Linked DNA regions of Homo sapiens: all the other regions are linked to region 1. Evidence: fine-mapped expression QTL. A gene starts in region 1. Each other region holds a variant in brackets. All regions are shown on one strand. Distances are between the middles of the regions.

Region 1 (8,187 bases):
TCAGTTTGTGTCTGTGTGTAATCAGCGTCAGAAATTAGCTAGTGCATAGTATGGAATTTTAGTCATGTAAAATCAAAGCACAGGGTTTGATAGGCAGTCTATTTTGCTTTATAAGATGGAGCATATATTAGTATTAATGTAGGACTTAACAGGTTCTGCTGCTCACATGGGAGCAAGGATGAGAGGAAGTGGAGATCTTACACAAGAATTCTTAAAAAGAGGGACCACTTCTCCTCTGCCTGGCTGCATTGGCTATTGAGAAGCAGTAGTGGAAGAGCTGAATGACAGGTTAAGGTTTGCCAAGTGAGCTTGTAGGGCTGTGACATTCAAGAGATGCCTGCTCATGGTCCTGGAATTTCCCTAGAAAATGGCACTTTCTGTTCATTAGACTTACAGAAATGTTTGTTAACTCTGGAGATTTTTGGCAAGAAACTTTATGTATCACAGCCTCAGGGAATGGCAGGTTATTTGAAAGTGCTTCTTAACTAATGATTTTCTTATAGTAATTTCCAGCAATTCAACTATGAGAGTGTTGTTCAGCACTAGAAAACAAGGAGCTGTCTTTCTCTGTCTGTCTCCCTCTCTCTCTTTTGCCAAGTCACAGTGCATGTCACAAGAGTGCAATGTCTAACATAATGTTTGGGTCAGCTCTTCGGGTTTAAGAAAAATGGAGACGTGGAAAGGAGAGCAAATAGATCCTAAATGGAATTCCGTAGACAAGGTGGTACAGGCATCAGGCACTTGAGGTGAGAGGAGACCCTGAGGTCAGAGACTTCAGTCTTCTTCTGTTTTCCCCTTAAGATCAGCTCCTCTTTTCCTATGACAGCAATTCCTTCCCTCTTTGATTTTGTGAAATCTAACATTTGTGAGGGTGTACATTTGATTGAGGCCTTTTTTTTTTCTTAACGGCATCTAATTTTCATTCCACAGGATGCATATTGGCACATAAATGTAATTGTACTTCTCATGCAAGCCACAGGGTGTCATGCCTTCCTCTCCTGTTGCCAGAAGGATCTCTGAGATCCATTTTCCGTTTGCTTAGCTGCTAATGCCATTTCTCGTTCTCCCCAGTGTTCCTGACAGGCAGCGATCGGATTCCCATCTACGGCATGGCCAGTCTGCAGATTGTCATCCAGTCCACAGCCAGCGGGGAGGAGTACTTGCCGGTGGCCCACACTTGCTACAACCTTCTTGACCTCCCCAAGTACAGCAGCAAAGAGATTCTGAGTGCCCGGCTGACCCAGGCCCTTGACAACTATGAAGGGTTTAGTTTGGCCTGAGGCTTCTCAGCTTGTCCAGTATTTCCCTTCGTTCCTCAGTGTCCACATTGAGGCCTATACAGAAAATCATGGGGAGTGATTTCTATTTTTTTATTGTCTAAGTGGGTTGGGACTTTTAAATACTGAGCCTGGTTGATGTGTTTCTGGGATTGTATAGCAGTAAACAACCTTTTTGAAAAATTAGAGGTTGGGGATGGGGTGAAAAATTGGCCCTTGTATGGGAGGTGTTTTTGTTTTTGTTTTAAACCAAACTACCCAGTATTCCTTGCACTTGTGAATGTGTTGCACTCTGCTGGATGAAATGGCAGTGGATTTTTAAACTTTAATTTCCCAAATGTCTCTCTCAGCCCTGATGTTTTCTCACAGTGCTTCCTTGTCCTTCTCTTAACTTCTCATTCCTCTATAAGAATGATTTAGACTGACCTGTCCTTTTTTATCTGCGCATGCGAGAACATCACCTTCCTCTGTACACTTGGAAATGCCTCTGGCTTGTTGCAGCCCTCCTTTAACCCAAAGGAGGAAAGGACTGCTTCAGAAACTCCCAATTCCAAAAAGCTGAGTCTGGGTCCATTATTTTGGCAGAACTCCTAAGAATTTATGGGAGCCTATATAAACATATCTTGCTTTTAAAAAGTTCTTGAGGGAATAGCAACTTTCCCATGGCTGTGCCTATTTCCTAGACCTTTTAAAAGATGTGCAGAGCAGCTTAGCATTCGTTGCAGCTGAGCCTAATTTTTTCTTGCTCATCCTTGTCCCTTTGACAATAAGGTTAATTGATAGACCCACCACCTCTTGCACTCTCGCTTTTGGAGCAAGTTGCATTAACTATTTTGAGTCTCTATATTGTCCAAGAAAAGTAGAAATAATAAATTTACTTTCCCTTTTTCTATCACCTTATGTCCTCTACCATTTTCTCCTTCCTCCCTTCCCTTATTTTCTCCTTTTCGTACCCTGTGTCCTCCCTGATTTTCCTTTCGTTTCTTCTTTATTTTATCCCATTCTCTGTTACTTGACTCAGTGCTCCCTTCCTCTCCTCTCCTTCTAGTGGATGCATGCAGCCTTTTTTTCAATTTTTATTTAAATTGCAAAATTTTTACTCAGATTTTTTTTCCTCTTCCCTAATTGCTAAGATTTAAGGACGTTCTTTATTATGAAACTTTATCACATTCGAAATGTTTGTTTACAGTGGGATTTTAGGGGGGATTGTGTTTAAATCAAATATATGTATTTTAAAAATAATGACATGCTCAACCTTCCTCATCATGGAGTAAGAAAATTCTACATGATTAAAGAATCCATGTAAGTCTAATTTTAAATTCCTAGTAACTAGAGAAAAGACTTATTTATATAAAATGAAGTATTTATGAACTGTGATAAAGCATCAAATCTTGATGAAGGATTGTAGATTTTTGCTTTTTCTTTTTGTTTTTAAAACTTATTCCAATTGCTAAATTGGTAGTTTTTCAGTCTTTATAAATACAGGATTAAAAATATATATACAGTTATATGAAATGTTTATTTTCTATGTGTGTGCATATAGTTCAATATTATGCAATAAATTTGGTGTTTTAACTTAAAACTATTTCTTATTGTACTTGCAGAATGGATAGCTTGCTTTTAGTAGAAGCATTAGGTCGTATACTCAGATAATCTAATAGAAGGTCAGATTTGATTCCTGCATAAGAAAGTAGAGCCAAGTGCTGCAGAAATGGAGAAGAAAGCAGGGGCAAGGAGCAGATGGCATTAAGGAAGAATGAAGTTTTTGAAGGTTGGGATGGACGAAAAGGTGTTTCTCATGGAGAGGGATGCTTTAGCAAAGGCTCAAACATTGGGGCATATTTAGGCAAGAGCCAAGAACAGTTTGAAGGGAACATCAGAGGAAATAGGCAAATAATAGTAAATAATGGTAAGTAAGACTTGGGAGAAAGAAGGTAGATTTGGGGCTGAGGAACTAGCCTAACACTGGAACTTTAGTAGTAGCCAAGTAGGATTTGTTTCAATGTTCAGAACTTGAGGGTGATAAGACCTGAGCCGGGTCTTAAGAAGGAAAATGTGGATGGTCTAAATCTGGAGGTATTGAGGTGGGAAGGACTGAAGCAGAAAGACAGGAGCTGAGACAGCAGTGACAGTGGCAGCAGCAGAACTAGAGAAGAGTATCTGAGGAGAGGTAGGGGGAGTGAGTGGAGGTGGTAGGAGCCTGCAGGGAGAAGGAGGCACTAAAGGTGGATCAGAGACTGGTTCATTTAGTGATTGGTGATTGTTAGGCCATTTAAGCACACCAAAAGTTTGTGAGACACAGCAAAAAAAAAAAAAAAAGAAAGGATTTTAAGTAAATTGGTAAAGCAAGTAAAATGTATTGTTTTGCCAGATTAAAAAGGTGGTTTAAAGGTGGTAAAGAGAATAGGAGCTTTCCATTAATAAGCTCCATTCAACAAACATTTAATAATCTACATAAGTGCTACATTTGAGGAGTTAAAAACAAACCCCACTACATTTAATTTTGCACAGAAATTGCCAAATTATTTTAACTAACTTTGAGGCCTCAGAATTCTCATCCATGAAATGAGATTGGATCAGATGATTTCTAAGGTTACTTTGAGCTCTAAAATTTTATAATTCCATTACTGAGAGAGTGCCTGAACATAGAGATACCCAATACATATTTCTAAAGATTTGTTGCATGAATGATATCTTATGCTGCTTCTAAAACACTATGATTTTTCTAAGATAGTTTCCTTTTCCCCTTCATTACCAATGCTTTAGAAGACTTAAATCTTCTGCATAGGCATTTCTGGATTTGCCTACCCACCTACCAACCTTCCCTCCCCTGAAAACTTTCAGATGCTTCTTCATTGTTTTAGTCATTTACCACTTTAATGAAATTATCTGGCAACTTTATTGTGGTGGGTGGGGATCAATGACGGTGTAATGAGGCAATTAGCAAATTCTGATAGTTCCATCTACTCCATGTGAAAGTCTCTTGATGTTTTATATGGTACTCTTATTAATAATCCCAGAGAGCAGGGGTTGGCAAACTATGGCCCATGGGCTAAAATGGTTTTTACATTTTAAAAGGGTTGAAAACTTTAAAACTGGAAGGATACATGACAGAGACTGGATGGCCTACAATGCCTAACATATTATCTAGCCCTTTACAGAAAACAACTGACCAATCCTTATGAGACCAGACTTGCAAAAATTACAGTAACAGAGTGAAAAACCTTCTTGAAGTGTTAGGAGGAACTTGAGTCATAATTTGATGTTGAATCAGAGAGAACAACTGTTTGGGCTTATTTGCCTCAGAGGTAAGAAAATCAAGTTTTAACTAAGATTAACCCACAGAAGTAGATATTAATACTAAGGTTTCGACCTAATAATAACTAACCTGTATTAATTGTGTGCAGTGTACCAGACCCATATGAGATCCTGCACCAACATTTGCTATGCACTAACTAGTTTAATTGCCATTACCAGGGTCCTCCTGGCTCTGCTATTTACTAGCTGTTTGACCTTGGGCAGGTTTCTTAACCTATGTCTCATTTTCTTCCTCTTCAAAATGAGAACAGAAATAGTGCCTACCTCATGGAGTTGTTGTGAGGATTAAATGAATTAATGGAAAGCATATAGAATAGCGCTTAGCACATAATAAGCTCTCAGTACTTAGAATTACCATTATCCCAGTTTTTCACATGAAGGAATTAATTAGAGAAAATAGTTGCTCATTATCACAAAATAGTGGGACCTGGACTTGACCATTAATCTGTGTTATGCCCAGCTGCTAGAGATGGGCAACAAATTGGATTAAGGCTGCTCAGTAGCCAAATAAAAAGGAATGTTGTAATGTGGCAGGTAACTTCTTTGACCACATATCTGCAAAGACATCGCACCGAGTTCCACGTATCTGCAAAGACATCGCACTGAGTTCCACGTATCTGCAAAGACATCACACTGAATTTTGTTTTGCTGCCAGTGTGCAATTCAGTAGTGATCAGTGCAGTTCTCATGTCATTTGCAGTGGGTCTCAAGTGAAGCTGGAGGTCTCTGTTGGTAGTTAGTAGCCAGGAACCAGGTATGCTTAATGCCTTGCATTGCATAGAACAATTCCTCTTTATCCTGCCCAAGATGCCAGTGGGCACTGCTATGGTCTGAATGTTTGTTTCCCTCTTAAAATTTATGTGTTGAAACCTAGCCCCCAAGATGATGGTATTAGGAGGTGAGGTCTTTGGGAGGTGATTATATCATAAGGGCAGAACCCTCATGAGTGGTATTAGTTCCCTTATAAAAGAGAACCCAGAGAGGTGCCTTGCCTTCCCTACCATGTGAGGACACAGCAAGAAGGCACAATCTGTGAGAAAGTAGGCCCTCGCCAGACACCACCAGTGCTTTGATCTTGGATTTCCCAGCCTCCAGAACTGTGAAAAATGATTTTCTGTTGTAAATTACCTAGTGTTTGGCATTTTGTTATAGTGGCTTGACTGGACTAAGACAGGCCCCTTTGTAAAACACTGAGAGAGGGATGGACTTCATACCCTTTAGGGGATCCTTCTCTGTAGAATTCTTTTTTTCAGAAGATTTTTTTTTTTCTTTTATTAATAAGCTTTTTATTTTTGAATACTTTTTTATTGGTACATAGTTGTACGTATTATGGGGTACTTGTGGTATTTTGATACAAGCATACAATGAATGCATAATGATTAAATCTGGGTAATTAAGATATCAAAACATCTATCATTTCTTTTTGTTGGTTACATTCCAAATCTTCTAGCTATTTTTAAACATACAATAAATTATTAACTATAGCCACCCTATTGTGCTATCAAACAATAGAGCTTATTCCATTTAACTGTTATTTTTGTACCCATTAACCAACCTCTTTTTATCCCTCTCCTCCTAGTATTTGCCCAGCCTCTGGTAACTATCATTCTATTCTCTACCTCCATGAGAGCAACTTTCTTAGCTCCCACATGTGAATGAGAACATGCAATATTTGTCTTTCTGTGCCTGGCTTATTTCAGTTAACATCGTGACCTCCAGTTCCATCCATGTTGCTGCAAATGGTAAGATTTCATTCTTTTTTCATGACTGAATAATATTCCCTCATGTTTATAGACCACATTTTCTTTATCCATTCATCTGTTGATGGATACTTAGGTTGAGTCTATATCGTGGTTATTGTGAACAGTGCTGCAACAAACTTGGGAATGCAGATGTCTCTTTGACATACTGATTTCCTTTCAAATTTTGGGCATATACGTAGTAGTGGGATTGCTGGATCATATAGTAGATCTATTTTTAGTTTTTTGAGGAATCTCCATACTGTTTTCTATACTGGCACTAATTTACATTCCCACCAAAGGGTGTGAGCATTCCCCTTTCTCTGCATTCCTGCCAGTGTCTGTTATTTTTTGTCTTTTAGATAACAGCCATTTTAACAAGGATGAGATGGTATCTCACTGTGGTTTTGATTTTCATTTCCCTCATTATTAGTGATATTGAGTATTTTTTCTAATACCTGTTGTCTATTTATATGTCTTCTTTTGAGAAATGTCTATTTAGATCATTTGCCCATTTCTAAATCACATTTTTTTTTTTTACTCTTGAATTGTTTGAGTTCTTTATACATTCTGGTTAATCTTTTATTGGATAGACAGTTTGCAAATATCTCCTCCCATTCTGTAGGTTGTATCTTTACTCTGTTGATTGTTCCCACTCCTGTGCAGAAGCTTTTTAGCTTTATGTAATCATATTTATCTATTCTTGCTGTTGCTGCCTGTGCTTTTGAGGTCTTACCCAAAAATCTTTGCTCAGACCAGTGTCCTGAAGCATTTCCCCAATGTTTTTCTTCTAGCAGTTTTATATAATAGTTTCAGGTCTTAATTTCATCAATTTCGATTTGTTTTTTATACATAGTGAGAGGTATGGAATCTAGTTTCATTCTTCTGCATATGGATATCCAGTTTTCTCAGCACCAGTTATTGAAGAGGCTGTCCGTTTTCTAATGTATGTTCTTGGCACCATTGTCAAAAATGACTTGGTTGTAAACATGTGAATTTATTTCTGGGTTCTCTATTCTGTTCTATCGGTCTATGTATGTGCCTGTTTTCATGCCAGTACCATGTTGTTCTGGTTCGTATGGCTTTGTAGTTTTTTTTTTTTTTTTTTTTTGAGACGGAGTCTCGCTCTGTCACCCAGGCTGGAGTGCAGTGGCATGATCTTGGCTCACTGCAAGCTCCACCTCCTGGGTTCATGCCATTCTTCTGCCTCAGCCTCCCAAATAGCTGGGACTACAGGCGCCTGCCACCATACCCAGCTAATTTTTGTATTTTTAGTAGAGACAGGGTTTCACCGTGTTGGCCAAGATGGTCTCGATCTCCTGACCACATGATCCGCCCGCCTCGGCCTCCCAAAATGCTGGGATTACAGGCATGAGCCACCGCGCCCTGCCTGTAGTATATTTTTAAGTCAGGTAATGTGATGCCTTCAGCTTTTTTTTCTCAGGGTTGCTTTGGCTATTAGGAGTCTTTTGTGATACATACGAATTTTAGAATAGTTTTTTTTTTATTTCTGTGAAGAATTTTATTGGTATTTTAATAGGGCTTGCATTGAATCTGTAGATTGCCATGGGTACTATAGATATTTAACAGTATTAGCTCTTTCAATCCATCAGCATGGGAAATCTTTCCATTTATTTTTGTCTTCTTCCATTTCTTTCATCAGTGTTTTATGTTTTCATTATAGAGATCCTTCACTTTGGTTAAATTTATTCCTGGGTATTTAATTTTTTGTAGCTATTGTAAATAGGATTGTTTTCTTGATTTCTTTTTCAAATTGTTAGCTATTGGTGTATAGAAATGCTACTGATTTTTGTATGTTGATTTTGTATCCTGTAACTGTACTGAATTTTTCA
Region 2 (8,187 bases), 64 kb before region 1:
CCTTAAAAAGAAGTTCCCCTTGGCCGGGCACGGTGCTCATGCCTGTAATCCCAGCACTTTGGGAGGCTGAGGTGGGCAGGACACTTGAGACCAGGAGTTCAAGACCAGGCTGGCCAACATATTGTATTTTTAGTGAAACTCCATCTCTACTAAAAATAAAAAAAATTAACTTGGGCATGCTGGTGCATGCCTGTAATCTCTGCTACTCGGGAGGCTGAGGAAGGAGAATTACTTGAACCCAGGAGGTGGAGGTTGCAGTGAGCCGAGATCACACCATTGCACTCCAGCTGGGGCAACAGAGCGAGACTCTGTCTCAAAAAAAAAAAAAAAAAAAAAAGGAAGGAAGAAATCTCTAGACCTCCAGACTCACGTGGTTTCTCTGCCAAATGTTATCAAGCATTTAGATAAGAAATGACACTGATGAAATAAAATCTGCTTTAAACAATAGGAAAAACAGTCTAAAGAAGAAACTCACATGGTTATGTCAGTTGATACAGAAAACAGAATTTGACATTATGCAGCATCCATTTATGACAAGAACTCTCATGAGGAACACACTAGAAGTAGAAGAAAACTTTTTCAACCTTATGAAGGACATCTACCAACAAATCTTATAGCTATGTCAAACAGTGTTGGAAGATTGCATTCTTTCAGTTCATTTGGGGTGCTATAACAAAAATATCACAAACTTGTTGGCTTATAAAGAACAAACATTTATTCTTAACAGTTCTGGAGGCTGGAAACTTCAAGGCCAAGGTGCCAACAGATTTGGTGTCTGCCGAGCACTGTCATCCTCATAGATGGTACCTTGTTAGCTCTATCTTCATACAGTGAAAGGGGCTAGCTAGCCAGCCCTCTATGGTCTCTTTTATAAGGGCACTAATCTCAACCATGAGGGCTTTGCCCTCATGACCTTATCACTTCTCAAAAGGCTGCAATACCTAACACCATCACTTTGGGGTTGATTTCAGCATATACGTTTTGGGGGATTCAAACATTCAGACCATTGGACATGGCAAGGATGTCCACTCTCACTACTGCTATTCAACATCATGCTAGAAGTCCTAGCCAGTGTAATAAGGAAAGAATGGGGGCGGGGGGTGTGTGGGTGGCAGGGGGAAGCAAACAAATTGGAAAGGAAGAAAAAAAACCATCTCTATTCTCAGAAAAAATTCTTTCTATTAAAAATTGCAGTGTCTACATTGAAAATTAAAAAACTATTAGTTAAATTTGTATGATTTAAGGTCAATACACAAAAATGTACTATATCTATATATTAACGATATGCAATTGGAAACTGGAATAAAAAATACAATTTATAATATTTCCAAACAAATAAAATACTTAGGTATAACTTTAACAAAACATATATAAGATTTATATGCTGAAAACTACAAAAGTCTGGTAGAAGAAATCCAAGACCTCGTAACTGTAGAGACATATTGTGTTCATGGATTAAGGCCCTTAACGTATTATAGCAAATATTTCAGTTCTTCTCAAGTTGACTTATAGATTTAACACAATTTCAGCTAAAATTCCAGTAGGATTCTTTTTTTGTAGATATAGACAAGCCAATTATAATGTTTATATGGGAAGGTAAAGGATCTAGAATACCTGAAGCAATTTTGAAAAATATGAATAAAGTTGAAGGAATCACCTGATTTTAAGGCTTACTATAGAGGTATAGTAATCCAGGGTATGTGGTACTGACAGAGGTGTAGACGCAGTCCAATAGAACAGAATAAAGCCCAGAAATATATCCACACAAATGTGGTTAATTGACTTTTGATGGAAATGTAAAAGAGATTCCATATAGAAAGGATTTTGTTAGTTGTTTTTAGCAAAGGGTAGTGGAACACTTGGACATTCATACCTTAAAAAAAAGAACCTTGATCTGAATCTCACAGCTTTTTAAAACAATTAACTCAAAATGAATCACAGATCTCAATGTAAAATGTGAGTCAATAAAGCTTTCAGAAGAAAGCAGAGGAGAAATTCTTCATAACCTGAGGTTAGGCAGAGAGTTCTTAGACATGACACCAAAAACATAATCCATAAAGGAAAAAGTTGTTAAAGTAGACTTATCTATGAGTGTGTTAAGAGAATGAAAAAACAACTCAATAGTGAAATAAAAATTTAATTTTAAAAATTGGCAAGAACTTCGAACAGACATTTATCCAAAGAGGATGGATGGCAAATAAGCACATGAAAAGATGTTTGACATCTTTAGCCACTAGAGAAATGCAAATTAAAACCGTAATGAAATACCATTATACTTGTTAGAATGGGTAAAATTAAATACTGATAATAGCAAGTGTTGGCAAGGATGCAGAGCAACTGGAACTCTCATAATTGCTGGTGTTAATGCAAAATGGGATGGCCATTCTGGAAAATGATTTGGCAGGTTTTTTCTTTCTTTTTTTTAAATAAACATATATTTACCACATAACCTAGCAATCTCACACCTGGGTATTTACTCCAGTGTTAGGAAAACTTATTGTCATACAGTAAGCTGTATGTGAATGTTCATTGCACCTCTATTTATAATCACTAAAAACTGGGAACAGTGCTCTGTAGTTCATCCATTATACAGTGGAATACTCCTTACCAATAAAAGGAACAAACTGTTGATACATGCAACCACTTAATTGAATCTCAGAGGCATTATGAGTAAAACAATCCAGTTTCAAAGAGTTAGACACTATATGATTCCATTTACATGACAGCATAAAAAACTCAAAACTATAGTGAGAGAAAACAGATTGTTGGTTGTCAGGGGTTAAGGATGAGGAGAGGATGCAACTATAAGGAATAGCATGAAGAACATTTTTGGGGTGATGGGACTGTTCTGTATCTTGATTGTGTTTGAATTCATAGACTTATTTGTGTAGTTACATGTGTTTGAATTCATAGACTTATATACCAAAAAAAGGTCAAGTTTATTCTATGATAATTAAAAATTTTTTGAAGCTGACTCTGGTTTCAGTGCCTTGGCTCAGAAACAAGATAGAAAATCTCTTATGGAAATAGTCCAGATACCCCAAAATGTTTAGACCAAAGTAATTAATTAAGAAATAAATTGGAATATGGCTTTGGAAAAGGACCTTTCAGATACAGGAACAAACAAAATGAGGGAAAGAGACTTAGTCATGTTGTGGGAGGCAGGGAGACTCTAGGATGAAAATTAGATACCAGGCCATCTTCTGTGTTGGGAACTGCAGAGGAACTTGGATGTACAATATTTTGTTTTGAGCGGTTTGCCGAGA[T/A]ACAGTGTATCTCCATCACCCAGACTTTCAATAAAAGTCTGCTGCACCCCACAGACTGGGTTGATAGTATTTTGGAGAAAAAGCAGTCAGGAGAGCAGAGTATAGCAGCAGGAGGAAAGATGTGCAGGAGGGTAAGAGTTCGGTGGGAACAGGAAATCAAGAGTTAGGGTGAATGTGAGGACTTAGAATGTGCAGAATGGTAGGGTGAAGAACTGGGTTTCCTACAATATGTCTCTGTCTTGTTTTCTACTATTAAAGAAAAGTATAATTGTAGAGTTGACAATTTGCGGAAAAGCAGAAAGGAGACATCTAAGTGGTGAAAGTTTAACCCTCTTTGTACTATCAACTGCTTACATTTATTTTGTGATAGTTTTATTAAAAACTTAGTGCCAACTGTTAATCACTAATTTTGTATATACTGTATATAGTAGTCCCTCCTTATCTGCAGGGGATGTGTTCCAAGACCCCCACTAGATACCTGAAACCTTGGATAGTACCAAATTCTATATATACTATGCTTTTTCAATCTGATAACAGGGGCAGCTACTAAGGGGCTAACAGGCAGGGAGCATATACAGCATGGATATGCTGGACAAAGGGATGGTTCATGTCCCAGGTAGAGCGGGACAGTGAGAGATTTCATCACATGACTCAGAATGGTATGCAATTTAAAACTTATGAGTTGCTTATTTCTGGAAATTTCCACTTAATATTTTTGCACTGCACTGATCGCAGGTAACTGAAACTCTGGAAAGCAAAACCTCAGATAAGGGGGAACTACTGTCCTTTCTACCCAGATGCTGATATTATTTACTGTAAGCCATTGGATGTGTTTCTCGTGTGAACAGACGATGAGGAAAAAGTTAGTTTTCCATTATCCATAAATAGGGTATTCACTTTGTAGGTTACTTTTACCAATTTAAAATCTATCTAATTCTTCTCCAGAGGAAAGACAATATAGCTTAGTTAAGTATAATGGGCTTTGAAGTCAGACAGACCTGGTGTCCATCCCAGTTCCACCAATCATTAGTTGTGAGCCTTGGCCAAATTACATCCTCTTTCTGAGCTGAGGACAACAACCCTGTGCCCTTGCCTTACAGGGTTGTTGCAAGGCTTAAGAATCTGCATCATCCATCTACCCCCTAGACTCATATCATCCTTCTCAGTTACCATCTTTTGGTGGTTAAATGACAAATTTACCATTAACTCAAAAAACATTAAAAAATTATGATGGGCTCAAGAGCTAAGTAGAACTAACCCTAATAATGCAAGTCCAGCTGAACGGCAGACTTGCTGTAAGCAGCACTCCACATTGGCCACTGTGCTGTCCTAACTACCATGACTTGTTCAGAACTGGAAACATTACTAAAGAGTTTTAAAAACTTTAAAGTGTTGCTGTGGAAGGTTCAAAGAGAAAGTATACTTTTATTCTCGAAAAATACCAAATGCTTCTTCAGTGTGTTTAGTTATTTTAATGTGTGGGTTGAGGTTCCATCATCATCTGCAAAATATAGTGTATAGTCTTGACGGAATGGATCAAAAGAGACTGCATGTGAAAATGAATCAGAGGGCACTTCAGCCTGAATGTTCCCAAGTGGGGCAGGGGTGTATTCAGAGAGGGGAGTGAATGAGGCATTCATCAGCACACTGGGCTGACCTAGGGGGTAGATTCTAGAAGAGGGATCATAGTTCCACAGTGACAGATCTCCAGCCTGAATTAGACGAGCGCAGTTTTCTGGCTAGAAGAAATAGAATAAGTTAGACTTGTGTAACCAGTGGTTTGGTTCTCCATCAACATTTGCATTGCTGAACAGTATTTCTGCCTTTGTGGCTGCAGGTTTTATTGTTGTGGTGAGGGTAGCTGGATTTCCTGTTGTTCCTATTGTCCATCTTCTTTAACCTCTACTCAACTACTTACTTCCCAACTCAGCCTTGCACCAGGCACAAAGAATAGTCCTTTACCTTGCAAAAATGTAAGGAATGCTATCAAAGGAGCTCAGGTGCGGCTGGTGAGTGATGGGACAGGAATTGGTTTGCCTAGAGATTGACGTGACTGGGAGTCAATGGTCATTGGAATCCAGGTGTTCCCTTTTGAGGCTACTAAGCTGTAGTAAAGACAAGATCAAGAGAGGGATGCTATTGAGAGACTGAGGGAAAGAAAACGGCAGACAGATCAGAGCGACAGTATTCTGTCAGGATAGTGGGGAAAATTATTAGTGTTGTGTTAGGCCATATACTAACATTCAGACAGGTAAGGCTGCTAGTCAGTAGCAGGAAGGTTAGGTACCAAGAGACAGGCCTCAGTCGTGAATAAGGCATCAGGCTAGGCCCCAGGTCTAGAGAACAGAAAAGCCGTCCAAGTCCTGGAATTGGTACAAGGTGGAAATTTGGTTAGAGTGGAGTCTGAGCCACCTGGGCTCCTTTGATAGCGTTCCTTACATTTTTGCAAGGTAAAGATAGGACTATTCTTTGTGCCTGGTGCAAGGCTGAGTTGGGAAGTAAGTAGTGAGCAGAGGTTAAAGAAGATGGACAATGGGAACAATAGGAATTACAGAATCTTTCTGTTTATTATGGTAATTTCTCTGGCATGAGCATATTTTCAGTTAAAAAAAGTGTTATTGTTTTGAAGGAATATATTTATGCAAACTGTGTTCAGGTTAAATAACAGTTCCCTGCCTCACCTGTCCTTATCTTGAATCTCACTCCCTATCATTTCAACTCTTTAGCTTTTTTTTTTTTTTTGCTGCTTACCTTTATGTCTCTAAATAACATGCTTATAATATTATTTCTTGATTTTTTTCAATATTGGACATAATCTGGAAACTTCACACTGGCAAAGATTAGAGTTCTGTTATATTCTCTACCTACCCTCTCCTCTTCCTCACCACCAGACACTCATCCTTCCCCAAAGAGTTAATCTTTTAAATAAAATTTGACAATTATTAACTATGGAAAGTATTTTTGTTTGGTTATTATGATTGCATGTACCATGATTGCTTTTCTTTCTCATAAATCATTTAGTTTTTCCTGAAGTTACTGACTTTAATTTTTTTTTCCACAGTAACCTCTGTATCTCTGGTAGAATTATAAAACTCATAATGCTCTAAAACTCTTTAAGTAGTGTTTTCTTTTTCACCTTGGAGACATCCCTCCACCTTTGCTTTGTAGGCATGCTACATAGCTGTCTGGAAAGGTTCTTCACCTCCTTCCTGTCTGTGTAAGATTCCTGGTTCCTAAATCCTGAGTTCTTTGTTTTGGAGGCATATCTTCCAGTAGCTTTCTGAGAAAAGCAGTATGGGAGGTAAAATATTTTGAGAGCTTTACATGCTCCAGAACTGCCCTTTTGCTCCCCTTGCCTCACATTTCATTCACAGCTGGTGTATGGAATTCTTGATTGGATGTTACTTTCCTTCAGAATTGTGAGGGCATCCCTCCATTGTCTTACAGTTTTCGGTGTTGCTTCTGAGAAGTATGATGCCATTCTGATCCCTGTTCTATTGTATATAAACATGTTCTTTTCTAGAAACTTTTAGACTCTTTCTTGTTATTCTGAAATTTCAAGATGAAGGGTTCTACAGTAGGTATTTTGTTGGTCATTATTCTGGGCACTTAATAGATCCTTTCAGTGTGAAATTTTCTTGTGATTTTTTTTTGAAATATTTATATCTTGTGTCTTCTCCATTCTCTTTCTGGATGTTGGACCTCTTGGAACAATCCTATAATTTCTTATCTTTTTTCCCCTTCTGATTTTCTCTTTGCTTTTTTCTTCTATTTCCTAGAAAATCTCTTCATTTCTAACTTTCAATCCTGCTTTTGAAGGTTTTTTTTTTTTAAATTTATGCTACCACATTTTTGGTTTCCAAGATATTTCTGTTGGTTTGTTTTTTGAATAATACTTTCCTATAGCACTCTCTTTCTAGTTCATGAGTGGAAATATCTTCTTTGATTTCTCAAAAGACTTTTAAGAAACTTTGCTCCCTGCATGATCTGTTTTTTCAGAGTTCATTTCCTTCTGTTTATGTTGCTCTTTGCCTTTCATGTTTAAGTTTTCCTCACACATAGGGTGATCCTTGTCTGGCCTTTTACATTGAAGGGTGAGGTGCTAACGTGAGTGGAGCTGTGTGTGTCCGCTCACATGGCGTGTGTGATTCTTGTTGACTGATGGGAAGCTAGACATTTCATTGAGGGATGCACAAATGTCACTATCTGTGGGTCTTGTCTTTTGGGCCAGTTTTCCCAGAGAGAGATCCTTCTGTTTCCTGGCTGGATACAGACAAGACTGTGATCCAGAACTGAGGGGAGAAAGTTGTTTAGCATTCTGGGTGTGTTTGTATGTGGGGGGAGAGGGTCTCATTGTTCCAGGCAGAGTTTCACTCACTCCCGCTACTTTTAGAAATATGTTTCATTTCCACTCAACATTTAGGCCTCTTGGATGGAACATCTCCAAATAGTACAGGCTTCTCCCTGGAGAGAGAAGCACCAGGCACATGGCTGTATAGGTTCAGGGAACATCTGGGATGTGTGTGCTACTATAGTTATAGTATATACTATAGTATATCTGGGATGTGTGTTACCCCGGGTCTCCGAATGTAAATTGATAGAGTTTAGAAATATGTGAAATTTATAATCTCTATAAATATTCAGATTAAGTGGTTCTTGTTAAAAAATAAAACTGCCCAGGAAGATAATCCTGTGTAATGGTAGCAGTATTCCTGTTTCTGGGTTGTACATTTTCCTCCTCCAATTTGTCTCTTTCAGAACAAATTGGAGCTCTGGCAGATCAGCATATCATTCATGTGGCATGTGGCGAGTCCCACAGTCTGGCCCTCAGTGACCGAGGCCAGCTGTTTTCTTGGGGTGCAGGGAGTGATGGTCAGCTAGGACTCATGACTACTGAGGATTCTGTGGCAGTGCCCAGGTA
Region 3 (8,187 bases), 180 kb after region 1:
GGAATAACCGAGGAAAACTTCCCTGGCCTTGCTAGAGATCTAGATATCCAAATACAAGAATCTCAAAGAACATCTGGGAAATTTATCATGAAAAGATCATCACCTAGGCACATAATCATAAGGTAATCTAAAGTCAGGATGAAGGAAAGAAAATTAAGAGCTGTGAGGCAAAAGCATTAGTTAACCTCTAAAGGAAAACCTATCAGATTAACTGCAGATTTCTCAGCAGAATCCCTACAAGCTAGAAGGGATTGGGGCTTATCTTTAGACTGCTTAAACAAAGTAATTATCAGCCAAGAATTTTGTATCCAGTGAAACTAAGCTTCATAAAGGAAGGAAAGTTACGGACTTTTTCAGACAATGCTGTATTGTCTTTTTCAGACAATACAATCTTTTTCAGACAATGCTGAGATAATTCACCACTACCAAGCCAGCACTACAAGAAAGGCTAAAAGGAGCTCTAAATTTTGAAAATATACCAACATAGAACCTCCTTAAAGCATAAATCTCATACCACCTACAAAACAAAAACACAATGGAAAAAAAAAAAACAAGGTCTTCAGGCAACAAACAGCATGATGAATAGAACAGTACCTCACATCTCAATACTAATGTTGAATGTAAATGGCATAAATGCTCAACTTAAAATACACACAATGGCAGAATGGATAAGAATTCACCAACCAACTATCTGCTATCTTCAAGAGACTCACCTAACACATAAAGACTCACATAAACTTAATGTAAAGGGTTGGAAAAAGATATTTAATGCAAATGGACAACAAAACAAGCAGGAGTAGCTATTCTTATATCAGACAAAACAAACTTTAAAGCAATAGCAGTTAAAAAAGACAGAGGGACATTATATAATGATTAAAGGACTTGTTCAACAGGAAAATATCACAATCCTAAATATAAATGTATCTACCACTGGAGCTCCCAAATTTATAAAATAATTACTACTACACCTAAGAAATAAGATAGACAGCAATACAATAATAGTCAGAGACTTCAATATTCCACTGACAGGACTAGACAGGTCATCAAGACAGAAAGTTAACAAAGAAACACTGGATTTAAACTATACCTTAAAACAAATAGACTTAAAAGATATTTACAGAACATTCTACTAAACAACTAGAGAATATACATTCTATTCATCAACACATGGAACATTCTCCAAGATAGACCACACGATAAGCCACAAAACAAGTATCAGTAAATTTAAGAAGATTGAAATATATCAAGTATGCTCTCAAGCCACAGTGGAATAAAATTGGAAATCAACTCCAAAAGAACCTTCAAAACCATGCAAATACATGGAAATTTAACAATCTGCTCCTGAATGATCATTGGGCCAACAATGAAATCAAGATGGAAATTAAAAAATTCATTGAACTCAATGATAATAGTGACACAACCTATCAAAACCTCTGTAATACAGCAAAGGTGGTGCTAAGGGGAAAGTTCATAGCCTTAAATGCCTACATCAAAAAGTCTGAAAGAGAACAAAGAGACAATCTAAGGTCACACCTCAAGGAACTGGAGAAACAAGAACAAACTAAACTCAAACCCAGCAGAAGAAAAGAAATAATGAAGATCAGAGCAGAACTAAATGAAATAGAAACAAACAAAAATACAAAAGATAAATGAAACAAAAACCTGGTTCTTTCAAAACATAAATAAAATTGATAGACCATTAGTGAGACTAACCACAAAAAGAGAGAAGATCCAAATAAGTTCAATTATAAATGAAACGAGAGGTATTACAATTGAAATTACCACAGAAATACAAAAGATCATTGAAGGCTACGATAAACACGTTTACACACATAAACTAGAAAACCAAGAGGAGATGGATAAATTTCTGGAAACAGACAACCCTCCTAGATTATACTAGGAAGAACTAGAAACTCTGCACAGATGAATAACAAGCAGCAAGATTGAAATGCTAATTAAAAATTGCCAAAAAAAAAGTCCAGGAAAAGATGGATTTACAGCTGAATTCTGTCAGACATTCAAAGAAGAATTGGTACCAATCCTATTGACACTATTCCACAAGATAGAGAAGGAAGGAATCCTCCCAATATCATTTTATGAAGCCAGTATCACCCTAATACCAAAACCAGGAAAGGACATAACAAAAAAAAGAAAACAACAGACCAATATCCCTGATGAACACAGATGCAAAAATCCTTAAGCTAACCAAATCCAACAGCATATCAAAAAGATAACCCACTATGATCAAGTGGGTTTCACACCAGGGATGCAGAGATGGCTTAACATATGCATGTCAATAAATGTGATACACCACATAAACAGAATTAAAACCAGAAATCACATGATCAGCTCAATAGAGGCACAAAAAGTATTTGACAAAATCCATCATCGCTTTATTATTAAAACCCTCAGCAAAACTGGCATAGAAGAGGCATACCTTAACGTAATAAAACCATCTAGGACAAACCCACAGCCAACATTATACTGAATGAGGAAAAGTTGAAAGCATTCTCCCTAAGAACTGAAACAAGACAAGGATCCCACTCTCTTCACTTCTATTCAACATAGTACTGGAAGTCCTAGCCAGAGCAATTAGACAAGAGAAAGAAAGAAAGCGGAACCAAACTGCTGAAGAGGAATCAAACTGTCGCTGTTTGCTGATGATCTGATTGTATATCTAAGAACCCTAAAGAGTCCTCCAAAAAGCTCCTAGAACTGATAAATGAATTCAGCAAAGTTTCAGGAAACAAAATTAATGCACACAAATCAGTAGCTGTGCTATACACCAACAGCAACCAAACTGAGAATAAAAGCAAGAACTCAACCCCTTTTAGAATAGCTGTAAAAAAATAAAATCAAATACTTAGGAATATATCTAAACAAGGAGGTGAAAGACCTCTACAAGGAAAACTACAAAACACTGCTGAAAGAAATCATAGATGGCACAAACAAATGGAAACACATCCTCTTCTCTTGGATAGGTAGAATCAATATTGTGAAAATGACCATACTGCCAAAAGCAATCTACAAATTCAATGTAATTCCCATCAAAATACCACCAATTGTTCTTAACAGAACCAGAAAAAAAAATCTGAAAATTCATATGGAACCAAAGGAACCAAAAAAGAGCCTGAATGGCCAATCCAAAACTAAGCAAAAAGAACAAATCTAGAGGCATCACATTACCCAACCTCAAACTATACTATAAGGCCATAGTCACCAAAACAGCATAGTAGTGGTATAAAAATAGGCACATAGACCAATGAAACAGGATAGAGAACCCAGAAATAATGCCAAATACAGCCAATGGATCTTCAATGAAGCAAACTAAAAGATAAAGTGGAGAAAGGACACCCTACTCAACAAATAGTGCTGGGATAATTGGCAAGCCACATGTAGAAGAATGAAACCAGATCCTCATCTCTCACCTTTTACAAAAATCAATTCAAGATGGATCAAAAACTTAAATCTAAGACCTGAGCCCACAAAAATTCTAGAAGGTGACACTGGAAAACCCCTTCTAGACATTGGCTTAGGCAAAGACTTCATGTCCAAGAACCCAAAAGCATATGCAACAATAACAAAGATAAATAGATGGGACCTAATTATACTAAAAAGCTTCTGCACAGCAAAAGAAACAATCAGCAGAGTAAGCAGACAACCCACAGAGTGGGAGAAAATCTTTGTAATCTATACATCTGACAAAGGACTAATATCCAGAATATACAAGGATCCAAACAAATTAGCAAAAAAAAAAAAAAATCACACAATCCCATCAAAAAGTGGGCTAAAGGCATGAATAGACAATTCTCAAAAGAAGATATACAAATGGCCAATAAACATATGAAAAAATGCTCAACATCACTAATGACCAGGGAAATGCAAATCAAAACCACAACGTGATACCACCTTACTCCTGCAAGAATGGCCATAAGCAAAAAATAAAAAAAAAAAATAGACGTTGGCATGGATGTGGTGAAAATGGAACACTTTTACACTGCTGGTGGGAATGAACACTAGTACAACTACTATGGAAAACAGTGTGGAGATTCCTTAAAGCACTAAAAGTAGATCTACCATTTGATCCAGCAATCCCACTACTGGGTATCTACCCAGAGGAAGATAAATCATTAAACAAAAGTAATACTTCCACACGCATGTTTATAGCAGCACAATTTGCAATTGCAAAAATATGGAGCCAGCCCAAATGCCTATCAATCAACGAGTGGATAAAGAAATTTTGGTGGCTGGGTGTGGTGGCTCACACCTGTAATCCCAGCACTTTGGGAGGCCGAGGCAGGCAGATCACCTGAGGTCAGGAGTTTGAAACCAGCCTGGCCAACATGGTGAAACCCCATCTCTACTAGAATTACAAAATTAGCCAGGCGTGGTGGCATGCA[C/T]CTGTAGTCCCAGTTACTCAGGAGGCTGAGGCAGGAGAATTGCTTGAACCCAGGAGGCAGAGGTTGCAGTGAGCCAAGATCGCACCACTGCACTCCAGCCTGGATGACAAGAGTGAGACTCCATCTTAAAAAGAAAAAAAAAAGAAAGAAATTATGGTATATAGGCCTGGTGCAGTGGCTCACGCCTATAATCCCAGCACTTTGGGAGGCTGAAGTGGGTGGATCACTTGAGGTCAAGAGTTTGAGAACAGCCTGGCCAACATGGTGAAACCCCGTCTCTACTAATAATACAAAAATTAGCTGGGCATGGTGACGCATGCCTGTAATCCCAGCTATTCGGGAGGCTGAAGCACGAGAATCACTTGAACCCGGGAGGTGGAGGTTGCAGTGAGCTGAGATCATGCCATTGCACTCCAGCCTGGGCCACAAGAGTGAAACTCTATCTCAAAAAAAAAAAGAAAGAAATTATGATATATATATTACCCATGGAATACTACTCAGCCATAAAAAGGAACAAAATAATGGCATTCGCAACAACCTGGATGGAATTAGAGACCATTATTCTAAATTGAAGTAACTCAGGAATGGAAAATCAAACATCGTATGTTCTCATTCATAAGTGGGAGCTAAGCTCTGAGGATGCAAAGGCATAAGAATGATACAACGGACTTTCGGGACTTGGGGAAAGAGTGGGAGGGGGCGAGACTACACATTGGGTACAGTGTACACTGTTCATGTAATAGGTGCACCAAAATCTCAGAAATCACCACTAAAGAACTTGTTCATGTAACCAAACACCACCTGTTCCCCCAAAAACCTATTGAAATAATAAATAAATAAAGAAATAAATTTTTGAAAAATCCAATTGAAGACAAACTGCAAACAGAAAAATTTTAGAATACTGAGATAACTAAATATTCCATAATGAGCTCAAGGATACATTACTATTAAGTGACAGTTGCTTTTGTAAGGCTTTGAAGCCAAAGAGCTTTCATTCTCTAGTCATCTGACCCAGGAAAAAATAACTCTCTGGTAATTATCATTTGGTTCACATATGTACCTTTCTTTCTTTCTTTTTTTTTTTTTTGAGACAGAGTCTCCCTCTGTTGCCCAGGCTGGAGTGCAGTAGCATGATCTCAGCTCACTGCAGCCTTTGCCTCGAGGGATCAAGTGATTCTCTTGCCTTAGCCTCCCAAATAGCTGGGATTCCAGATGCGTGCCACCATGCCCAGCTAATTTTTTTGTATTTTTAGTAGAGACAGGGTTTCACTATGTTGGCCAGGCTGGTCTCAAACTCCTGGCCTCCAGTGATCTGCTTGCCTTGGCCTCCCAACGTGCTGGGATTACAGGCGTGAGCCACCGTGCCTGGTCCATATGTGCCTTTCTTGTTATTTTTCTAAAACCTCTCTGAGACAAGAAAATAAATTTCCCTTTATTCTTTAAATTTGTTTTATGTTTGTTTGCTCTTGATTTTGTTTAGTAAATTTTGTCAGACAGCAAGGCAATCTTTATGCAAGATTTAAAAATCAAACCACTCTACAATTTGGCTGCAGCCTATTTTTCAGAATTTATCTTCTAATACTTCCCTTCATCAACCTTCTACCCATTATAGACTGGTCTATCAACTCTGCTCAAAGCATATGATGCTCATTTTCTCCTTATACTCTTTGCTTATGTCATTCTAACTGAAATCTTTCCTCTGGCCAGTTTCCAGTTCTTCTTTTTAAATTTTCTACTTAAATTCTGTCTCCTCCATGAAGCCAGCTCTAATCAATTTAACAGCACATATGGTTTATTCTGCTTATTTGAAACATAATTTCATATAATTTTTATAAGATAGCTTTGTACTGCCAGGCTTAAAGCCCAGAAACTGTATTTCCCAGAATCTTCTGCCAGTGGGATTCTGGTAAATGTCTTCCAGTGAGAGGATTTCTCTTGAGATTTGAAAGGCAGAGGAAAAGACAATGCTACTTTGGGTATTATAGCTGGCACATGGACCTGACTGAAAGCAAACAGATCAAAAGTCAATTTTTACATTTTTGAGTGAACTTACTGTCAACTTCCTTCAAGCCACAACAAACCAACTAAGCAACTACCACTACTATCATTAAAAGTAAATAAATAAATAAATCATCCCAGACTAAACAAGCCTTTGTCGTTCAAGGCTTAAAACAATCCTTGAGGCCAGGCACGGTGGCTCACGCCTGTAATCCCAGAATTTTGGGAGGCCGAGGCGGGCGGATCAACGGGTCAGGAGATCGAGACCATCCTGGCTATCACAGTGAAACCCCGTCTCTACTAAAAATACTAAAAAAAAAAAAAAAATTAGCCGGGTGTGTTGGCGGGTACCTGCAGTCCCAGCTACTCAGGAGGCTGAGGCAGGAGAATGCTGTGAACCCGGGAGGCGGAGCTTGCAGTGAGCCGAGATTGTGCCACTGCGCTCCAGCCTGGGCGACAGAGCGAGACTCCGTCTCCAAAAAAAAAAAAAAAAAAAAATTCCTCGAGTCACCAGACTTTCATGAACAGTAGGAAAGCTGCATAGTTGAAGGAACACACTCCCTATACCCACTCCCAGGGGAATAATGACAAGGAGGGGAATCGCAGGGGTGAAGGCAGCAGCCAGAAAGAAAACAGGCAATGGAATTCCTCACAGAAAACAGAATTTAGGTCTAATCAGGGAGCCTCCACTACTTTCTGTGCGTGTGTGTGTTTGTGTACTGAAGTGTGAATGGCATTGTTGAATGTGGTTATACTGTCCCATTTGTATACTGCTGAAGTGTGAATGGGATTGTTGAGTGTGGTTATGCTGTCTGATTTGTATATGGCAATATGTGTGTGGAGGGAGGGACAGGCAATTCGTCTTTTTATTTCATAGATCCTCAGACCAAGAAGAGCCATGTCTAGACCAGATGGAGTACTCATGTATTATCAGGAAATTCTGGTCTTGTAAGCTGGTTGTAATGACTGCTTGGTTCTTTGGATTTTCATCTTTGTAGAGGGAGTAAATGTGTTTCTTGCATGATAAAAGAAATGGAAAAATATAGGTGGCAAACAGGAGGGTGAGTTGTGGCAATAATACTATGTATTCATCAACTCCTATTTCATTCCCTCTTCCTGTGCTCACTGGAAGATGACATTTCCCAGACTTCCAAGAATGTTACTGAGTTCTGGAATGTAAGTAGAAGGGATAAGTATCACTTCTGTGCTGTGGCGGTTATGGACCTGTGAACTTTGCACACGCCTTCTATCTTCTTTTTCAGTGTCCATTTCAGAGGGCATGTTTTCAGATGAAACCAGTAGAAGATGGAAGCAGCCTGTGACTAGAATCACTGCTTAGGGTCTTGCTGCCTAGGAATCCCACTCTACCTGCAACAGACTGTGAAAGAACCGAGAAATACACTGATTTTGAACATAGCCCATACTATAATGGGGATGTTTGTTACAGCAGTTAGCATTAAAAACCTTGGCTAGGCATTGGTCATAATTGTAGAACACAGCAAATGAAGGGAAACTGGAACATAGAGGCCAGTGAGAACTTTAGGGTTAATGAAAAATGAGGGCAACCAGGATAATTTGGTTCTTGGCCAAATAGGAAGGTGAAACCAAAGGTAGACTGGAGGTCAGAAAATCAGTCCAGCACATGTGATGTTTTCATTTAGTTGCCTGTATGTCTGTCTGGTCTCCAGCTCAGCCTGGCTCCTTGAGGTAAGAGGCAGTGGCTGTTCACCTTTGCATCCCAGCACCTGGCATACAATAGATGGGATGAAATGTTCAAACTGAGCCTAAG

The links. PIP is the estimated chance that this variant, and not a neighbour inherited with it, causes the effect.
Region 2: its variant is fine-mapped to the expression of FAM13A-AS1 in blood mononuclear cells (TOPMed, PIP above 0.99).
Region 3: its variant is fine-mapped to the expression of FAM13A-AS1 in cerebellum (GTEx, PIP 0.93).

What each region holds. Positions count from the first base shown.
Region 1 is chr4:88,705,681-88,713,867 of GRCh38, forward strand. FAM13A-AS1 (FAM13A antisense RNA 1) reads left to right here and starts at 4,109. Exons shown (of 5, transcript NR_002806.2): 1 at 4,109-4,585; 2 at 6,175-6,337. HERC3 (HECT and RLD domain containing E3 ubiquitin protein ligase 3) reads left to right here. Exons shown (of 26, transcript NM_014606.3): 26 at 1,072-2,859. The coding sequence ends at 1,280.
Region 2 is chr4:88,641,816-88,650,002 of GRCh38, forward strand. HERC3 (HECT and RLD domain containing E3 ubiquitin protein ligase 3) reads left to right here. Exons shown (of 26, transcript NM_014606.3): 4 at 8,025-8,184. Among named protein-coding and RNA genes, the nearest start is that of NAP1L5, 52 kb to the right of the region's middle. The variant T/A (reference allele first, on the strand shown) is at 3,267.
Region 3 is chr4:88,882,062-88,890,248 of GRCh38, forward strand. All of the region lies in intron 6 of FAM13A (family with sequence similarity 13 member A), which reads right to left. Among named protein-coding and RNA genes, the nearest start is that of FAM13A, 170 kb to the right of the region's middle. The variant C/T (reference allele first, on the strand shown) is at 4,401.